Linked DNA regions of Homo sapiens. The protein of the gene in region 2 interacts with the protein of the main gene of each other region in a pairwise test. Each region holds a gene or a part of one and is shown on either strand. Other genes may lie near its edges.

Region 1 (7,804 bases), on a different chromosome or scaffold from region 2:
CCGCCCATCCACCTAACACATATTCGAGATGCGTCAGATCCATTGCTGGAACTTCCGAGGCCTCTCAGTTCTTTGATCCCACCCTGCCCCCCAACCTCCCCGCCCTTACCCAAGCCCACCTTCACTCTAAGCACAAGGCTCTAGCTCCAAATCCCACCCCAGGCCCTAGACCAGCTGCGGCCTCCATGCCCCACTCACCCCCACGGAGCTCAGCCCCACCCCAGCCATGCTCACAGCCTGTCGTAGCACATGACCGAGTCCAGGCAGCGCTCGCCGTCCTTGATCTCTCTGCCACCGACCACGTAGATGGAGTTGAGAGCTTCTCCCAGGCCAAAGAGGCAGCGGGGCGAGGGCAGCGGTGGCATCCCCAGCCACTCTGAGTCCAGATGGTCAAACTGCAGGCCAGGTGTCCAGTCAGCTACCGCCCCCCACTCCCCCAGCCTCAGCCCAGCCCCACTCAGTCCCACTGCCCCAGATCACGGAGGAGGTCGGGAACCCAGGTAGGGCCAATACAGCCTGGAGGTGCCCTGAGAAACAGTGCCCCTCCTACCATCAGGCTGAGAGCAGATGAGCGTCCCCCACACCCAGGCAGGCTCCTGGCAACCACCATTATAGCAGGCGGTAGGGCACCACAGCACAGAAATGAGGGGGAGCTCTGTGAGGGAGGTCCAGCTATGGCCTTGCTTTCCCAGGCTGAACAACTCCCAACTGAGGCCTGCCTGCCCCCTCCTCTCCACCCCATCCCACTGTTCAGGAAACTTCCAAATACGGCCCTGCCTTTTCGCCCTGTAAAATCTACAGTCCACAGCCTTGTCCACCTCCACAGCTTTATAATTAAGATATTAATACTAGGGGTTCATCTTTTTGGAAAGTTTTCTGAGGGCTGAGCACCTTGCTGATGAGCACTTTATAAGCATCATTTAACCTTCCAACAACCTTATCATGCAGGAAGGAGAATATCCCCAGTTACAAACAGAGGCCCAGAGAGAATAAACAATGTGCCCACACTGCTGAGCTAGTAGCTGGTGAAGCTGCCCTCATCCCCCAGTGCAACCGTAAGGCCTGTGAGCTTAACCCTGGCACCAAGCGCCTGTCACCCCTCTTGCTGATCAGGCCTCCCTGAGCACACCACTCACCAGGCTCAGCCCCAGTTCTATCCCTTGCTTACCGTTCCTTGGCCGGAAACACTGCCATCTTCCCCTTCACATCTCCAAATCCCACCCCACTGGCAAGGCTCAAACTTATATGGCCAGTCTCCAGGAAACTGTCTCTGCCCTTTGAGATCTCACAGTCACACCCCAACTCAGACCTGGCACTCCACTCTGCTGATACCTCCTGGGCCTCAGTTTCCTCATCTGTACAATGGGAGGACCATACAGGATTGTTCCTTTGTCTGGGACACTGCTGTGAGCTCCGGGCCTGGCCTTCACGCAGAGGCCCTGCCCAGGATCCTCACACCGACCTTGCTGCTCCTTACTGTGCCCCACCCCAACCCCTGTGCAGGGCCAGGGCCTCCAACATATGCCAACTTGGGGCTACCACACCCCTGAAATTAAGATACCAAAGTTATGCTGCTTTTTGGCAGCTGCCTATTGACTGTCTTCAACCTTCAAGTAGGTGGCTATCAGTCAACCTCCCCAGTCTACATCTCACCCTAGACCCAGTGGCATTCACTTGTGTAGACACAAGCCCCTTCTGGGCCCCAAGACTGTCCACAGTGCCTAGAGCCCAGCATTAGCTGGCGGCTCCCAAGGCTGGTCAGGCACCTGCAGGAAGTATGCGCTCATGGGGTCCTCTTTGTTGTCTTCGTTGTAGAAGAGGCCTCCAGCCACGAAGACCTGGTTCTCCTTGGTAACCAGGCTGACGTGGTTCTTGGGGACCTGGTTGGAGAGGGAAGCACAGTAGCACTCGTTGGCTGCTGGATCGTAGGCCACAGCGCCCTCCTCACTGATCATGAAGATGAGATCCTGCAGGAACATGCCGAAGCGCAGGGTGTCATTGAGGATCCCAGGAAGGATACGTTCGGCCTCCTCATCCTCCTCTGCTTTGGCTTTGCTTGTGCCCTTATCAGCCTCCTTGGCCCCGGCTCCATCCTTCCCCTTCTTTTTCTTCCGCAGCGTGGTGATGCGGCCCTCGTGTGCATCCTTCACCATCTGCACCTTGCGCAGCAACTCGGGCTGGGCACGCACGAGAGGGTGGCGCTCCACGCGGCTTTCCAGAAAGGCGCGCGGCAGCAAGCGGCAGCGCACGCTCTCGAAGACGGTGGGCAGCGCGCGCTGGCGCTCAGCCTGCGCCTCGGCGTCGCCGCTACCCGCCCACCGCATCACCGCCTCGAACACTGCCTCCTCCTTCTCCACGTTAAGGCCGTCGCTGGAGATGATGGCGATGAGCTCGTCGGCCGAGAGTCCGAGGAAGTCAGCGTCGCGCGCCACCAGCGTGAAGTGAGCGCAGATGAAGTCGCGGGCAGCCACGGCGAGACGCGCGCAGTCGAGCAGGAGGCCGAGACGGAAGACGGCCAAGCAGTTGGAGAGGCACAGGCGCTTCTGCAGGAAGGACACGCAGATGGTGAAGATGGAAGGGATCTGGAAGCGGTGTGCCGCGGCGAACAAATCCTGCACGCTCGCCTCATCCAGCGCGATCTCTGATGTGTACAGGTAGTGCAGCACCTGGGCCACCACGTCCGGGGACACCTCCTCCAGGTGCAGCTCGCCCGCGCGCTCCGGCTCGGCTAGAAAGCGCGCCCGGAAGTAGGGGCTGCAGGCGGCCAGCACCAGGCGATGGCACGGGAACTCGCGCTCGCCCGCCCGCACCACACAGTCGAGGAACTTGCCATGGTCCAGCATGTCTTTGAGCCCGTCTTGCAGGAGCGTCTGCTGGTACAACCGCTGCTCCTCCGCCTGCTCCAAGCCCAGCGCCATGGTGGGTGGCCTAGGGTGCGGTGGCGGTGCCAAGGGGGCTCCTCTCTGTACCCCTGCTTTCCTGCTGGGGTTTGCTTAGACTGAGCAGCTGTCTTCGAGGGGCTATATATAGAGGTGGCCGGGTCCCTGTAAGGCGAGCCGCCTGGCCTCCTGCACATGACGCACAGGGGACAGCTGGGCAGAGGCCCCCTCCCAGAGAAAGACTTGACTCAGCCCCGGGGGCTTATGGGACGGGGGTGGGGTGTCTGGGCCCTTCTGAAAGATGAGGGCCTGGCTGCCTCATTTCTAAATGGAGCACGGAGAGGTCTTGACTCTGGATTCTTTGGTCAGGAGATGCCCCTAGGGGAGAAGGTGGCCTAAGCTCTGACCCTCAGTCCAGAGACGGGAAAGCACTGGAGCCTCTCTTCCAGGGTCTCCCTTCCTTCATGCTTTCTGGGAACTTCTGTCCTGGTGCCTCCATCTTCCCCCCCGGAATATGTCTCACTCCAGCTACCCCTGGATACAGGGTGCTTGGGTTTTCTGGTCAGAAGTTGGACATGGTGTTCACTTTTTGGCGGCCCTGTTGCCCTGCCTTTATTTTAAGAGGCAGGGTCTCACTATGTTGTCCAGCCTGGACTTGAACTCCTGGGATCAAGCCATTCTTCTGCCTCAGCCTCCCTCGTAGCTGAGATTACAGACATAAGACACCACCCCCGTTGCCTCACCTTTAAAATGGGAAGAGCTTTTCCTCTTTCTGTCCCTCCTCCTTGCAAGAAAGCAAGAAGGTACCTTAGGTAAACAAGGTTGCCACTTTCCTATGAGGCCTGGGGCAGGGCATGTCGCTCTGTTAAGCCACAGTTTCCCTTCCTACACAATGAGGAGGTGGCAAAGTTAGATGCTAAGGACCTCAGTTCAACTCTGCTGGAAGTTTAGAAGCACCAAGGTACTGTGTCCTGGGAGTACACTATTAGTTTTAACACTTCTAAGGTGTCAGATGTGCTAGCAAATTAATTTCTTAGGATTCTACTATTCTAGGTTTTTAAACCCCCGGGGTTTTAACATTCTAGGGAGTGACATTCTGAATTCTAGTGTTCAAAAAGTAACACTACAAGTTTAATATTTCAGGACTTTAGCTATCTATACTCACTATTCTTGGTGCATATTAGGCCAGACCTGAGACTGCCTGGCCATGGGGCCCCTGCACCTTGTCTATGGTCTGAGGGACCAGGGTTGAAGCCCAGGACAGCCAGTCTTGATGCCTACCTTGTTCTAGACTACTGACACCCCTCCCCACACCCTCCCCACCCCGCCCCACCACCAGACACACACACACACACACACACACACACATCAGCCTCAGTCACCAAGATTAACTTGTTCCCAAAGTGCCAGAGGCTGCAGCTGTGTGTTAAATTTAGCCCCCAGGACATTGGAATGAACTATTATGAGACACACCCCCATCATTCCTCTGAGTCACTTGTTTATAACGTCAGGCGGGGGAGTGGGGGAGGGGGTGGGTATAGGAGAGATGACAGCAGGCTGGGCTAGGACTGAGTCACCTCCCTTTTGTGATCTCAGCAATATCACTCTCTGTCCCTTTTGTTTTTAGACGGAGTTTCGCTCTTGTTGCTCAGGCTGGAGTGCAATGGCGCAATCTCAGCTCACTGCAACCTCCGCCTCCAGGGTTCAAGCAATTCTCCTGCCTAAGCCTTCCTAGTAGCTAGGATTACAGGCGCTGACCACCACTCCCGGCTAATTTTTTTTTTTTTTTTTTTTTTTTGGATTTTTAGTAGAGACGAGGTTTCACCATGTTGGCCAGGCTGGTCTTAAACTTCCGACCTCAGGTGATCCGCCCGCCTCGGCCTCCCAAAGTGCTGGGATTACAGGCGTGAGCCACCGCGCCTGGCCTCTGTCCCTTTTAAATGGTGCATCTGATCATCACTTGCTCACCCCACCAGCAGGTCCCAGAGGGACACAGCACCTGAGCAAGCTCTGGAGGTGGTCCTGTCCCTCTTGCTGAAAAGGCAAGGGCTCACTCAGGGAGGGCAGGTGGTGAGCTTCCAGCCCAGCCCTGGACTGCAGGGCATTGCTAGCAAGCACAGCCAGTGAGGAGACGAGGCTTGAGAGGCTAGGCACCTTGGCCAAGTCACACAGCGGACATGGGCTGCGCCAGGATTTGAAGCAGATCTGCCCTCTTACAAAGACTGTGGGAACCCTTCCCTACCTTGCTGCCTCTCGTGAATTAACAAAAACGTTCATCAATCGTAGTCTCATTTTCAAAGACCAGGCCAGAAGATACTGACTGAACAATTTACTTAGATTTATCAAATGACTTAATGAAATATTTTTAGATTATGATGGATCCCATAGTGCTCACTGCCTACCAGGCATTCAAGTAGAACATGTGTATGTGGCTCATTCATTCATCAAGAACCTGTGCACTGCTTTAAATGCTGAAGAGTCAGCAGTGAGCAAATCAGGCAGGAATTCCGGTCTTCATGGAGCTTACATTCGTCAGGAGGTCGGGGCAAGGTTGGTAGGGGAGACAGAAATAAATAAATAGTTATACGGGGCATCAGATGATGGTTATGGCTGTGGAGACAAGTGAAACGGAAGGCGCATGGGAAGTGGGAGGAGGAGGTGGTAACGATTTTAAATGGAGTAGTCAGGATGGACTCACCGAGAGGATCACATTTGAGAGGGGTCAAACCGTGGAGGATTCCCAGTGGGGGAACAGCTGGAGCAAAGGTCCTGAGGCAAGAGAGTGCCTGGCACGTTCCCAAAACAGCACGGAGGCCAATAGGGCTGGAGCAGTGAACGAGGAGGTGAGTAGGAGGAGGTAAGGGGAGAGGTTAGGGTAGGGGATCATGCTGACCCCCGTGGGCCAGCATCAGGACTTGGGTTTTCCTCTGAGTTGAAACCGGGAAACACTGTGTTTTATTTTTTATTTTTATTTTTTTGAGGCAGGGTCTCGCTCTGTTGCCCAGCCTGGAGTGCAGTGGTGTGATCACAATTCACTGCAGCCTGGATCTCCTGGGCTCAAATGATCCTTCTACCTCAGTCTCCTGAGTGGCTGGGACTACAGGCACCTACCACCACACCCAGCTAATTTTTAAAATTTTTGTGGAGATGGAATCTCACTATTTTGCCCAGCCTGGTCTCAAACTCCGGGCCTTAAATGATCCTCCCACCTTGGCCTCCCAAAGTGTTGGGATTACAAGTGTGAGCCACCATGCCCAGCCTCACTGTTTATTTTTAAATTATTATTGTGGAAAATACAAATACATACAAAAGTAGAGAGGATCATATTCTGACCTCTCATGTACCCATCTCCCCACTTCAGTAACTGTCAAGTCTTCAAGTCACGGCCAACCCTGTTTCATCTCTATCTCCACCCACTCTAATCAACCCAGAGGTTGCATGTGGGTGTAGAAAAAGAGGGGAGAAAGGGTGACTCCAAGACTTTTAGTGGAATCCAAGGGAAGATGTCATCTCATTTCATCCTTTTAATTTTTACTCATTTAATCTTCACACCAAAATTATAAGGTAGGTATTATTTTTCCCATTTTACAGAAATTGAAATTTAGATGGCCAGCAAATAGGAAGCAGTCTAATATTTTGAAAATAACTTTAATGAGGCATAAGTGGCATGTGATAAACTGCACATATTTAAAGTGTACAATTGGATAAGTTTTGACATATGTATACACATCCGTGAAACCACCACCACCACAATCAAGACAGGGAGCACATCTGTCACCCACGAACTATTCCTCATCCCCTTTTAAAATCTCTCCTCCATCTCTTCCCACACACCCCAGCCCAATCACTGATCTGCTTTCTGTCACTATAATTCATTTGCATTTCCTAAAGTTTTATGTAAGAGGAATCATACAGTATGTACTTTTTTTGTCTGACATCGTTCACTTAGTATAATTATTTTAAGCTTCATCCAGGTTGTCTACTCATATTTTTAACTGATAGCTTCTGCCTTCATTAGGAATCTTAGTATATCACAGGGTCATTTAAGAGAAACACAAAATGGGGCCGGGCGCAGTGGCTCACGCCTGTAATCCTAACACTTTGGGAGGCCAGGGCAGTGGGTGGATCACCTGAGGTCAGGAGTTCGAGACCAGCCTGATCAATATGGTGAAACCCCGTGCCTACTAAAATACAAAAATTAGCTGGGTATGGTGGCGTGTGCCTATAGTCCCAGCTACTCGGGAGGCTGAGACAGGAGAATTGCTTGAACTCAGGATATTTGGGTGGCAGATATTTGTCACACTTGGTGGCCTTCCTGCATCTCCTAAATAGTCTTCCTATGTTTTGGACAGTTCCCACATAAGTAGTCCTTCTTCCCTGTGGTAGAAACCAGAATTTATTTTCCCAGCTTCCCCAGGAACACAGACATGCCACTGAGCTCAACCCATTGTATGCGCCCATCCCAAAACTTCAGTTTGGAACAGGAAGCAGGAACCTGCAGCATCCATATTTTGGCGAAGGGCTGATGGACAGCAGTGTTGGAACTTCTGGAGTCTACTTTCCACTGTCCACCATACAAGCTGAGGGATCTGTCCCTACTGGCTGTGGTTTGGCCATTGTCTGGGCTATGTATCCTGCAATCCTGACTCGAGCATTCCTGAAGTTTCTGTAATCTGTCTGATACCACACTAGCCAGTGAAGATTCTGTGATCTACTGCTAAGAGGGCTGTGTGATGTTGAAAATCATTTCAGGAGTATACCAGCAACAGGTGCTCAAGGGTGAGCTTGAGAAGTCGAGAGAATTTCTAATGGCCTGCTTGCTTCTTCACTGACTTCTGGGTTAAAGGTGGCCTATGATGCAAGAAGTTGAGATGCTGGAAATGCTCTTACATTACATAAAAGGATCCAAAAACAGGCAGCCCAGA
Region 2 (7,109 bases):
CAAAGGGGCAGCTGGGGTCTGGGATGGGGGTAGGAGAGCCACATGTCAGACTGTCAAAAGGAAGTTACTATATAACGTTCACCAGATGCTTTGTAACATGCAAATTTTTGTTGCTGCACAGTATTTCTTCATTTATGCATGCTATTTTTTACCATACTTAATCCAAAAACAAATTAAGATGCCCCCAAAGAAAACTATTTAGTAACAGTGAAAAATGTCCTACCATAAATTATTCAGGAGAAAGTTCCAAAAGAAGTATATGTGTAATATACCATATCTTAAAGAATATAAACCACAATTTAAACAATGGTCATCTTCTGCACACTTATCAATATCTGGTATTTTTTCTTGTTTATCTGATTGTCCTCCAACCACTAGATTAGTTTCATGAATACAGGGCTTTGTCCTTTTCATTGTTGTATGCCAGTGCTCAGAACAGTGCCTGTTATACAGTAGGGTTTCAATAAATATTTACTTAACAAATTAATCAATTAGTTTTCCAGATCACTTTATTTCTAATTAAAGCCCCTCAGTACCCTCTCACTGCCCTCAGAACACAAAACACACCCTCCTGGCCATGGACAAGTAAAATTTGGTCCCTGCCAATTTCCTATACCTCATCTTGCTCTACTTTTCCCTGACTTACTACTGAGTGGCAGCTACATGGATTTTTCTTTTTATAGCTTTTTCCTCTTTTAAGGCCTTTGTGCATGCTGTTATTTCTGACCAGAATTCTTTTTTTTTTCTCCCCATTCCTCCCATGGTTGAGCTCTTTCTGTTCCTTTAGTGACATCTATTTAAGTCATCCACTCAGATAAACCTCGGATTACCCTGCTGCAAGTGTTTTCTTTAAAGCATTAGAACATGGAATTATTATAAATTTACTTTTTGGTGGGTTGGGAGAGGTCTATTTTCCCCAGCAGAATGTAAGGTTTATAGAGGCAGGCATTGTCTGTTCACCAAAGTCCCCAGGGTCCAACAGAGCTCCTAGCACCACAGTAGATAATCAAATATTCTATGAAGTTATCTTTGGATGGGACAAGTACAGGTAGTTTTTGCTTTACTTTTTACAGCTTTATATATTATCTGAAATTTTAAATAAACATAATCTGGGTGAAATAAAGCTATTTCCACTTTGGAAAAAAGATCTCCTGTAGTCCTAAGTAGCAGCCAGTTATAGTTGTGGTTTTGTGGGGGTTCCCCCCTCCTCCAGGGATGAGGTTGCCCAGGTTGGTCTTGAACTCCTGAAGTTACAGGTTTTTTTTAAATGAAGAAAATGTAGAGAAAACAAATAGCATTTCCCGTAAGTCAAAACAGAGACCCAGAAAACAAAGTGACCCTATTAAAAGCCAAAAAATACAATTTGAGAAATACACAATTTTCACAGAAACTTAAACATTCATTAAAAAATTTCTTGCCACATACGAGTTTAAACCAAGATAATCACGGCACGCACAAAGGGAGTAAAAACTAAGGTAATAACCTGCAAATACTTGAAGCGCAAAGTCAATGTGCAATCCCTGTTCTACATTTCAAAAGATGACCTTAGCTATTGTAGGTTTACATAGGCACACACACAACTAGCACCGTCTCTCTGGCGGTTCTGCAAGGGCTCCACCACTACCACACACAATCCACTCACAATCAGGAGTGAAGTTAAGCCTTCGGGTACCATACAAAAGTGTCTTTCATCACCAGGGCTCTGCTGCGGGGCCTCACTGACCCTGCCAAAGCTTCTCTCCCCACACCCTCACCAGAAGGTAAAACGTTACTAGACAGAATAGGCCCATTTTCTCGGGTCTCCTTCGCACTCAGCGCTGTATTAACAGTCACCTCCGTGGGTGAGCCCGCCCCAGGCACAGCGGGGGTCAGAGCTTCCCACAACAGCATGTGGGAGACCTAGGCCCCTCCCCGACTCACCTCATGGTGTGTTGGGGAGGGTGGCTGTGTCTCTGCTCCGCCGGCAGCCCCTCCGGCCCCCTCCCGCCAGCCAAGGCCAGTGCGCCAGAGCGGGGAACTCCGCGCAGGGCGTGCTGAGCGTGTAGGGCGCGGGGCCGGCGGCGCCTTTTGAAAGTCAACAAGGGCGACGCCGGCTCCGCGAGCGGAGCCCAGGGGCATGGCCCTGACTCGGCGCCCACGGACCCCACAGAACGAGGGGATCCCTGCAAACCCCACTGAGCCCGTACAGCCAACAGGGCTGGGAGATCCCCGCACACTCCGTAGACCCAACGGAGCTTGTAGCGGGTAGGGACTCCACACACCAGGGAACCCTACAGAACCCGCAGGACCCCAGGACCCTGCAGACCTGGGCGGGCTCAGTCGTCAGAACGGAGCACAGGACAGCAAGCCAACTGCCCCCGAGTTCTTGGACGTCACACAGTAACCCCACTAGGAGGATGGTTTTAGTATTATTTTACAAAGCTCACTCCAAGCTCCAATTTCCTTAAGTGTCCTACCCGCAAGCCCCTAGTAAGGATATCTATCAATCTCAGGTCTAATCTAAAATACACGTTCTTTTCACTACAGTGATCTCAAGTTATTATAACTCTTCGTCCCACATCATTTATGCAGCCTCACCGGCTACAGTTTGATGCAGCTTTTTAAATTTACTATGTAGATAATAAAAAATGTATTTATACATGTCACAAAATTAAAAAGTCATAATGAATATGGCTTTTTTTTTTTTTTTGAGACAGAGTGCAGTGGCACAATCTGGGCTCACTGCAACCTCTGCCTCCTGGTTTCAAGCGATTCCCCTGCCTCAGCCTTCTGAGTAGCTGGAATTACAGGTATGGGCCGCCACGCCTAGCTAATTTTTGTATTTTTAGTAAAGGCGTTTCACCGTGTTAACCTGGCTGGTCTCAAACTCCTGACCTCAACTGATCAGCCCGCCTCTGTCTCTCTAAATGCTCAGATTACAGGCGTGAGCCAACATGCCAGGCCTGAATATGGTTTTTTAATACTTCACATAGCTTCAGGAAAATTGATACCAATGCCTGGGGTAGGGATGAGGTCCCTTCCCAATAAGCCATGCAGCCCTAACAAAATTTACGAAAAATTTAATCAAACGGAGGTGCAGGGGGAAGATGAAGTGTTTGGCCTGATCTAAGGACATCTTTACTCATTATGTTTTAACTAAGCAATCTAAGATACCCACATGCATTGCCCAGAAGAAAGCCTAATTAGTAGATCTTATTCATCATTACCATTAGTGTGTTGTATAGCATATAGGATAATTTGAACTTATAAAGCAAGTTAAATTCATAAACAATTATGTAGATTAACAAAGAGCTATTCAAAATAAAAAATTCACTAAGGTATTTAGTATATCCAGTAGGAGACAAATTACCTTTTTTAAAAACTTTTTTTTTGGAATTACACCCCTTGAGTAAAGTGTATTACACCTATGTACTATGACTTTTTCATTTAGCTGTGGCTTGCTTATTTTTGGATTTAATATTCAATTTTTGAAGATTGTTTTAACATTCTCAAAATCCAGTCTACCACAAAAAGTATTTTTGGTAATCAGGCTGATGCTTATAAACACCACAATTTTTTTCCTCCTACATTATGTAAAAACAACAACAAATTCTTTAGAGACCATACTTTTTATATTCAAGATCATATAACTTTCTTTTTTTTTTTTTTTGAGACGGAGTCTCACTCTGTCGTCAGGCTGGAGTGCAGTGGCGTGATCTCGGCTCGCTGCAATCTCTGCCTCCCAGGTTCAAGCGATTCCCCCACCTCAGCCTCCCAAGAAGCTGGGACTACAGGCATGCACCATCATGCCCGGCTAATTTTTTGTATTTTAGTAGTGACAGGGTTTCACCATGTTGGCCAGGATGGTCTCGATCTCCTGACCTTGTGATCCACCCACCTCGGCCTCCCAAAGTGCTGGGATTACAGGCATGAGCCACCGCGCCCAGCCTCAAGGTCATATAATTTTCATTAGAATTATTTCAAAGCTTATATGGTGACTTTTTAAAACATCTCTATACAGTAATGACCATTGTTCTGGCTCCTCATCAACTGGGTTTATGAGTTTGTGCTTTGGCATTAAACCATCTTTTGCCTGTATAAAATGGTTGTATCGTATTCATTAATATACTTATTGCAAGGATACACACTGTTAAGTAGTTTTGTCCCTCTTACAAAAATATCCTGAGAATAAGTTCCTCTCAGAAACAATTATATTTCAAGACCCACTTTTGGGTACTCTTGATTATTACATATGGCAAAAGAGAACGTGACATCTGATTTATGCCAGAATAAAGATAACTATGTATGGCCACCACCTCTACACGTAGCCCACGCAAAATGTCCTGGGCACAGATAAATAGGGGATATGCACAAGGGTAAAGTAGGTGCCCCAACTGGACAAACCTCAGGCATTGGGATCTTGAATATTCCTTCTCCTAATGAGGGAGCAGGTGTACATGAAAGGTTCTAAACAGGGTCTATTTCACCATGCCAAGGAGGGTAGTGAATCTTTATACAAAATATTAGCAAGGGATTTAGTTCTCCGATTAAATGTAATTAAAATCTTACTAAGAGAAAACAAAGTACACTCCAGATACATTTCTTATGATAAAAACAGTAATTTTAAAAAGCAAATTAAAAAAGCCAACTAAGCCAAGCAATAAAAGCAAAAGCTGGTTATTTGTAGAGTAATAATAAAGTAGGTAATCTTTTAGCAAATATAAATAAGTAAAAAGGAAAAAATTAAATATTGAAAGCAAAGACGATACAACCACAAATACAAGGAAGATATTTCTAAAATTATAAATCACCATGTATAATTTATATCAATAAATCTGAAAACTATAAAAATATAATTTACCAACATTGGTCTAAATGGAAGAAACATTTAAATAAACCAATAATGATGAAGAAAATGAAAAGAGTAGTCAAAAACTCTACCCCCTCTTCCAAAAGACTAGTTCCAGAGATTTCCTGTTTTACTTTTAACTTATCAAAAATTATCAAAAATCCACAAGTTTGGCAATGTATGTCTGTTGGGGAAGCTGTGGGAAACAAAGTGAAAGAAGAGTAAAAGACCAGAAGAGAATATTTACTATGTAGATAATTTAAAAAATTATTTATACATTAAGATAAATAACACGAATGGAAATCACATTTAATAAATTATGAATAAACACATTTAAAAACATCTCCAATTTACAGATTTAAGAAGACAATCCCAAGCAAGATACATACATGCTTGTTTTTTTGTTTTTTTGAGATGGAGTCTTGCTCTGTCGCCCAGGCTGGAGTGCAGTGGCGTGATCTCTGCTCACTGCAACCTCTGCCTCCCGAGTTCAAGCAATTCTTCTGCCTCAGCCTCCCGAGTAGCTGGGACTACAGGCGCGCACCCCCATGCCGGGATAATTTTTGTATTTTTAGTAGAGACAGAGTTTCACCATATTGGTCAGGCTGGTCTTGAACTCCTGACCTCTTGATCCGCCCACCTCGGCCACCCAAAGTGCTGGGATTACAGGCGTGAGCCACCGCACCCGGCCAATACATACAAGTTAACAGCAAAGCAGCAAAAAGCTAAAGATCAAAACAAACAACAAAAGAACCCACAAAAAACAGTCAGAACAAAATGAATTGATAGACTGATAGGTGACTTTTCAATAGCAATAATGAAAGCCAAAAGACAGAGGAATAAGAGCTTCAGCATGTTAAAAGAAAACAATTGCCAACTTTTGTATTCAGCAAAAACATCATTCAAGAATGGCTGCAAAATAAAGACATTTTCAGGTGAACAAAAACTGAGTGTTCATCATCAATAGATCTTCAATAAAAGCCATTCCAAAAACTGTACTTTTTAAAGGAGACAGGGTCTTGCTCTGTCACCCAGGAAGGTGTGCAGTGGCATGATGATGGCTCACTGCAATATCAACCTTCTGGGCTCAAGCAATCCTCCCACCTCAGCCTCCCAAGTAGCTGGGAACACAGGTGTGTGCTACCACGCTCCACTAATTTTTTTTTTTTTGTAAAGATGGGGTCTCACTATGTTGCCCAGGCTGGTCTCAAACCTGGCTGAAGCAATCCTCCCAGCTCAACTTCCCAAAGTGCTAGCATCACACGCATGAGCCCACGCACCCAACCAATTTTCTGAAATTATATAATGAAATGTGTCATGTGAAAGAGCTGCACAATTCAGTGAACCAATGTTTTCCAAATGACACATGTGTAGGTAAAAGAGCCCTTGAAAGTGCATGGTAGGCCAATGTTAATGTCAGAGCATGAGAAGTTCATTCATATGATTTGCAATTCTACACTGCAGCTAACGTTTAACAAATTGTTAGGGGCTGGATGTTATAGTCCCAGTGCTTTGAGAGGCGAGGCAGGGGGACTGCTAGAGGCCAGCAGTTCGAGACTAGCTTGGGCAACATAGCAATACTGTCTCTACAAAAAAAAAAAAAAAAAAAAAAAAATTAAAAATTAGCTGGGCCTGGTGGTGTGTGCCTGTAGCCCTAGTTACTCAGGAGGCTGAGGCAGGATTGTTTGAACCCAGGAGTTGGAGGCTGTAGTGAGCTATGATCACATCACTGCACTCTAGCCTGGGCGACAGAGCAAGACACTGTCCTAAAAAACAAAACAGAAACAAAAACACAAAACTGTTAGGTTTTGATGAGTATCAAAAAAGAACATAATCATCTGAAAAGATTATTAAAATATTCATCTCTTTTCTAACTACTCAGCTGAATGACGCTGGATTTTCTTCATGCACTTCAACCAAAATAATACATGGCAACACAATGAATACAAAAGCAGATGAGACTCTAGTCATTAAAGGAGACCTTCAGCGTATTTGCAAAAATGTACAAAAATCCCATTCTTGTCACTAATTTTGGGGAGATAAAATATGTTAAGATGTAATGGGTTATTATATTTAAAGGTACCAATAAATAAACATACATTTCAAATTTATCAGTTTTAATATCTAATACGGTAATTATCAATTGATATAATCCAATAAACAAAAGATCTTTGGGATCTTCAGCAGTCTTTTGAGACGGAGTCTCACTCTGTCACCCAGGCTGCCGTAGAGTGACACAACCTTGGCTCACTGCAACCTGTCTCCCAGGTTCAAGTGATTC
Region 3 (5,983 bases), on a different chromosome or scaffold from region 2:
TGACACCAACTTAATTTTGCATTATGTTTCAGAGTTGCATTATGGCATGTCATTCCATTATATCATAATGAGGCAAATCAAGGAATTATTCCCTTTTACTAATAAGGCTATAGCATATATTATTTGGCCACATTGAAGAGGATAGGAGATACTTTCTATGGGTTGAAATTAATACTACTTTTAACCCATGATACATTCTATTTCAATAGCATTTGAAGTTAAAAGTAATGCGGTCTTCAACTTCTTGTCCTCTGTGTAAATCTCCAGAGATTACTTAGTATCTGTTTCAGAATCATTACAGAAAAATCAATGCTAAGATTTATGGAAAGCATTTAAATAGCTTGGACTAAAGGTATTAGCCAAATAGTGTTAACTGTGTATTTGCTTCAGGCTTGTTTTCAAGTTAGCTATATGAAGCTCTGGAATCACTTTTTTTCAGTACACAGAGCTCCTCTATGAACAGTTATGAGAAATAAAAACCTGTTGTGAGCATCAAATTTTGTTGCTGTTATTAAATAGCTATTATTATTGATACATATTTTTCTTTAGGTGGGATTTTTCCCTTTAGATATAACTGAGTTTAAAACTTGAAACTGTTAGTATTAATACATAGGTTATATTTTTCATAGGTTGATTTCTATCCAATATGAACTATAAAGAATTTTATCGTTTATTGTTGTAGATTTGTGTGATGAAACATACAATATTTCCAGTATCTTCACAATATTTTTCCAAAGAACTGAGCTATTAAAATTTATACATATAAGGAAACATTCTGTCATTTCTAAAGTGAGATTTCAAACCATAAGCTTGTTAGAAATTAAGTGAGATTATAGTATTCTGGTGATACTTAAATGTTCTTGGGATCTTTACAATCATATGTGGTTTTTTAAGAACTTAAGAATCTTTTGTTACTGCTATTATTAATAGATTGGGAAAATATAATCTGTTGACTAAAAGGCAAAATAAACATTTTTAAGATTTTATGCAGTATCCTATAATGGAAACAAACAAGAAAGGTCTTGTTCTTGTTTGTTGAGGAAAAGATGATGGCTTTGCTTTAAACATACTTGAAAAATCGACTAGAAGAGATCCTGAACAAGAAACTGTAAGACTTCTGGAATGTACCTTGAGTAACAGAGGCAGATAAACTATTTTATTCTGTTACTAGTGAGAAGATTCACTGGTAATTCACAATCACCGCCCCCTCCAACCAAATACCATAAACAAGGCCTCAGAAATGGGAACTTCCATTTCATTTTTGACAGTGATTTCTCTCAACTCTGAAAACAAAACCCCTTTTACAACTCTGAGTTAGTTTTCAAATGTTAGGGTTTCCTGCATGGGTATTTGGGGTAAGTATGAAAATGTTTTGCTGCTTAAATCAAAGAACTCTGGAAACAGATATAAATTGAGAATGGAAAAAGAGTAGTGAATAAGATGGAAATTTCTATTCTAAATTTCACTATATGGGCTACAATTCCCATATAGTTTTCCTTAGTGAACACCACCCCCCAACACACACATACAAACACACCTTCTGATTTAAATAACATTATATCTTCAGAAATGGAAAATGTGTTAAAGTTGTGTTAACAGGCTTCCTTCTTGTCTGTGTCCCATTCTCATCACAGTCTACCAGTTAGGGATGTTTAGAGAAATTTATCTTGTGGCATTGAAGTGGCTTTATGTGCATTATATATTGGGTTTTATGTATATTGCATACTGTGAAGTAATCATGATACATGCTGACAACAAAAGATGTAGATAAGTTAAAATTTTAGTTGATCCATTGTCTGTTTCTTCTTTGCCATCTTTGTAGAAAAAAATTAATTCAAGATGGACAGCCTATAAAAATGTATCTTTTTCTATTATTATTAATTTAGATATTGGCGTGCCACTTTTGAAGAAGGAAAATACTTAGCTACATTAAAAGATTTGCATTGAAGAAGCAATTGTGATATGCTGCCTTTTATCACAGTGTGACTTCCCATCAGTGCTGAGTAATGAAGTTTCTGATTAATATCTATCGTTGCTTTATCAGAATATCTTTCTCTAAAGTAAATCATTCTTGTGAATAAGAATCTAGCTAGTTGTAATGCAGTTCAGCATAGGTGGAAATAATTTTTTAAGGACTAAGTCAATTTCTGGGATTCAGACTGTTTCAGAAAAGAAACATTTTCTGTATTTCCACTAATGGCACAGTGTACCTTAGTATGTTTGGGTTAGTATTCAGTTTTAGCAATAATCATGGAGGCAGGGGTATCTATAAATATTATATCCCAATTTGCAAGGTAGCAAAGTTGTATATATACTACATAATATGACCACTTGACAGTTTATGAAGTCTTTTCATATATGCCATTTAATTGATTCATATAATAATCTTATGTGTAAACATAAAGGTGTACTACTATCTTCATTTCAAGTATCCTTGAAAAGACTTTCTCCATTGAATTGCCTTTGTACCTTTGTCAAAAATCAACTGACCAGCCTTATAGCACGTTAAGAAGTAACTTATATGATGTTATTAACACAAAGGATGGGGGAAGGAATGAAGCTATATTGGAGTAAACAATGACACCAGACAGTTATGTGAAGAAATGAAGAATACCAGGAATATTAAATATGTGAATGTAAAAGACCCTAATATATTTTCCTTTCTCCTCTTAACTTTATAAAAAGAAAATTATTTAAAGTAATAATTACAACACTATATTACTGGGTTTAAATATATAAACATATATGACAATAATAGCATAAAGGTGGAGGAAAGGAATAAAGCTCTATTGGAGCAATTTCTATATTTTTTAGAATCAAGTTAGTATTAAGCTGAGAGAAATTGTGATAAACTAAGACGCAATAGTAATCTCTAGAGTCATCACTACGAAACTCAAGAAACTATAGTAAAAAAAAATACATTAATTAAAATGGTGTACTAGAAAATACCTATTTAATAGAAAAGAAGGTGATAAAGGAGGGTGAGAGGAAGTAAAAAGACATGTGATATATAGAAAACAAATAGCTAAATGGCAGGCATGAATCCAACCATACCAATGTTAATTTTAAATTTGAATAAACACTCAAAAGGGCAGAGATTGTCAGATTGGATATAAAAACAAGATCCAACTATATGCTATCTACAAAAGATACACTTCAGATTCAGAGACAACAATTTTGGAAAACTGTCAACTATTTCTATACCATTCTCTTTCCTTTCCTTCTGTGATTCCAATTATGTGTAATGTTGAACTTATTTGATACTATACCAGAAGACTCTGATGTTATTTTTTAAAATTATTTTTTCTCTTTTTACTTCAGTTTGGTTTCTTGTGACCTGTTTTCAAGTTTTCTAGTGCTTTCTTCTGTCACATCTCATCTAATTGAGTGACCGCAACTCCTAAGTATATTGTGACTTTATTTTCAGGATAAGGGAGATCTTGAAGGCATCTCGAAAGTTGCAAGGTGATCCAGATTTGCCGATGTCTTTTACTTTGGCCATAGTGGAGTCTGATTCTACAATAGTCTATTATAAACTTACTGATGGATTTATGCTGCCAGACCCTCAGGTCAGTTTTGAGGTAACTGACAGCAAGAAGTACAAAAAGAGGAAAATTATGACGTGATTTTAAGTGTGACTCAAGTCAGTCACAGAACTGCCACTTCCTTTGCCATAGGGAAAATTCAAGAAAAAAAGTCTTGATTTTCAGACGTCAGAAAATTGGTTATATTTTGTTCAAAGTAGCATGTTCCTAGTTATTTTTGCAAAAAAAAAATTGATTTCCTTACTCTTTGGAGAATTTCATGGTTTTCCAAAGTATTTTATGAAGTCATCATGCATTTAATTATTTAGTGAGTAGCTGAGGTGGAATGTAAAGGCTAATAATAGTTGTAAGTAAAAAAACGCTTATTTAAGAAATGTTAAATTGGTTGACATTTTGACAGGAACATTTTAATAAGATAAATGTGCTATATGTGATTTCTTTACATACTTTGTTGGTATAATTTGGATAATTACATTAAATATCTTTCTAATTTTGCTTTTGGATTACATTGTTTATCGGAGAAAAGTCCATCCTGATCTTTTTTTTTTCCAGAATATTTCTCTTAGAAGATGACATCCATGTTTCCTGATGCTTGTTTTATTCATACAAGATTGGATTTGAGACCCATCAGACTGCTTCATCTTTTATCTCAGAAATAGGGTTGACGTACATAGTGAGGGTTGACTTCCCCATTCCATAAGGTTTTCATTCTGAAGAGTAAAACTTCCCCAGGTAGAAGACTTTCTCCTTCTTAAAAAATATAGGGTGATTTCTTTAAAACTTTGTTATCTAGAGACAGTTTAATTACAGTTATATACAGGTTTATGCCTAGGATGTATTCAGATGGGTGGGACCTGTGTGCTGCTTTTGTCATCCCACACTCAAAGTTGTCTCTTTGTTTCTTGCTGCCACTGCCAGCTCATTGTTGAGACTGCCATTTCTTTCTCTTACTCAGCTCTCCCCAGTGCCTTTTGGCCACTGCAGCTACCGTAGAATGGCATTTTATATGTACCTTGTCACCCACTTCTGTTTACTTTTTCCTCTCCAGTAAAAAGTAAAAGATTTCTTTCAATTGGTCTTCCCATTGCAGTTACTGTTATTTCTCTTTTTTGGTTAACTTTAAATCAAAACTCAAAATATGTTCATCCAGAGTGTGTCTTAAGTAACTTACGTGTCTTAAGTAACAGGGACCAGAGACATGTTACCTACAAGAGTTCTGGGCTATCCTTTTCATTCTTATCACATATCATAGCTTGAATATTACAACAGTGTGGGAGAGAATCAACCGTAAAAATGTCTTCATTAATTAGACCCAGTTATTCCACTTTTGTTAATGTCTCTCAAATTGTACAAAGTATAAAAAATTATATGCACAAAGATGTTCCAAGTGACATTACTTTTAGTAGCCCAAATTATAAACCACTTTAAAGTTTGGGGTAAAGATTGGCAAACTTTTTCTATAAAGGGCCAGAAAGTAACTATTTTAGGTTTTTAAACCTACTGTCTCTGTCATAACTTGTCAACACTGCTGTATGAAGCACAAAAGCAGCCATAGACAATACATAAACAATACGGGCGTGGCTTTGTTCCAGTAAAACTTTGTTTACAAATGTGGTGCCATAGTTTGTCATCCCTGGGTCTAGGAAATAGTCAATAAACAGATATATACAAATGATACATAATGTACTTATTAAAAATTAGTAATGAATATTATTAAAAACATGAAAATATTACCTTAAGTAAAAATTGCAAGACGGAAAAGTGTATAAGTGGGTGTAATCATGGCTGAAATAACAGACCAAGCATATGATAAAAAGATAACAAAGTAAATCAAATTACTAACTGGTTATAGTGGGATAGGAGGCAGAAAATGGATGACTTTGTCTTTTCTCAATGTTTTTATTTGTATTTTATAATAAAAATGTTTTAAAATTAAAAGGTGTCTTGAAATCTGTATTAGTTATCTATCATTGCAAAATAATATTACCACAAATGTAGCAACTTAAAACAGCACACATTTATTATCTTATAGTTTTTGTGGGCAAGGGACCCGGGCACAGATTAGTTGGGTCCTCCATGAGGCTACAGTCAAGGTGTTGGGCAGGGCTCCAGTCTCATCTGAGACTTGACTGGGGAAGGGTCAGCTTTTTCACCCACATGGTTATTAGTAGCCTTCAATTTCTTGAGAGTGCTCAATGCTTATATGCCATTGGCAGGAGGCCACCCTCAGCTCTTTGCCACGTGGGCCTTCTCAATATAACTGGTTGCTTCCTCAAAGCCAGCAAAGGAGAGTCTCAGCAAGATGGACCTTATAATCCTTATATAATGTAATCACATACATCCCATCACCTTTGCCGTATTCTGTTGATTGGAAGCAGGTCATAGGTCCTGCCTACACACTAGGGTTTCATGGCTGATTAGGAAACAACAATAACAAG

The links.
Region 1: the proteins of TASOR2 (region 2) and KLHL40 interact in binary tests that used the Homo sapiens proteins (3 or more experiments, as listed by UniProt).
Region 3: the proteins of TASOR2 (region 2) and TSEN15 interact in binary tests that used the Homo sapiens proteins (3 or more experiments, as listed by UniProt).

What each region holds. Positions count from the first base shown.
Region 1 is NC_000003.12:42,680,733-42,688,536, reverse strand, and holds the start of KLHL40 (kelch-like protein 40), read right to left. Parts: upstream 3,001-7,804; 5' UTR 2,919-3,000; coding exon 1,767-2,918; intron 396-1,766; coding exon 235-395; intron 1-234. UniProt on the Homo sapiens protein: Substrate-specific adapter of a BCR (BTB-CUL3-RBX1) E3 ubiquitin ligase complex that acts as a key regulator of skeletal muscle development.
Region 2 is NC_000010.11:5,687,730-5,694,838, reverse strand, and holds part of TASOR2 (protein TASOR 2), read right to left. Parts: intron 2,042-7,109; exon of another isoform or gene 1,926-2,041; coding exon of another isoform or gene 1,921-1,925; intron 1-1,920.
Region 3 is NC_000001.11:184,068,730-184,074,712, forward strand, and holds the end of TSEN15 (tRNA-splicing endonuclease subunit Sen15), read left to right. Parts: intron 1-1,886; exon of another isoform or gene 1,887-2,003; intron 2,004-3,427; coding exon 3,428-3,569; coding exon of another isoform or gene 3,570-3,581; intron 3,582-4,097; coding exon 4,098-4,118; coding exon of another isoform or gene 4,119-4,134; 3' UTR 4,135-5,483; downstream 5,484-5,983. UniProt on the Homo sapiens protein: Non-catalytic subunit of the tRNA-splicing endonuclease complex, a complex responsible for identification and cleavage of the splice sites in pre-tRNA. It cleaves pre-tRNA at the 5' and 3' splice sites to release the intron.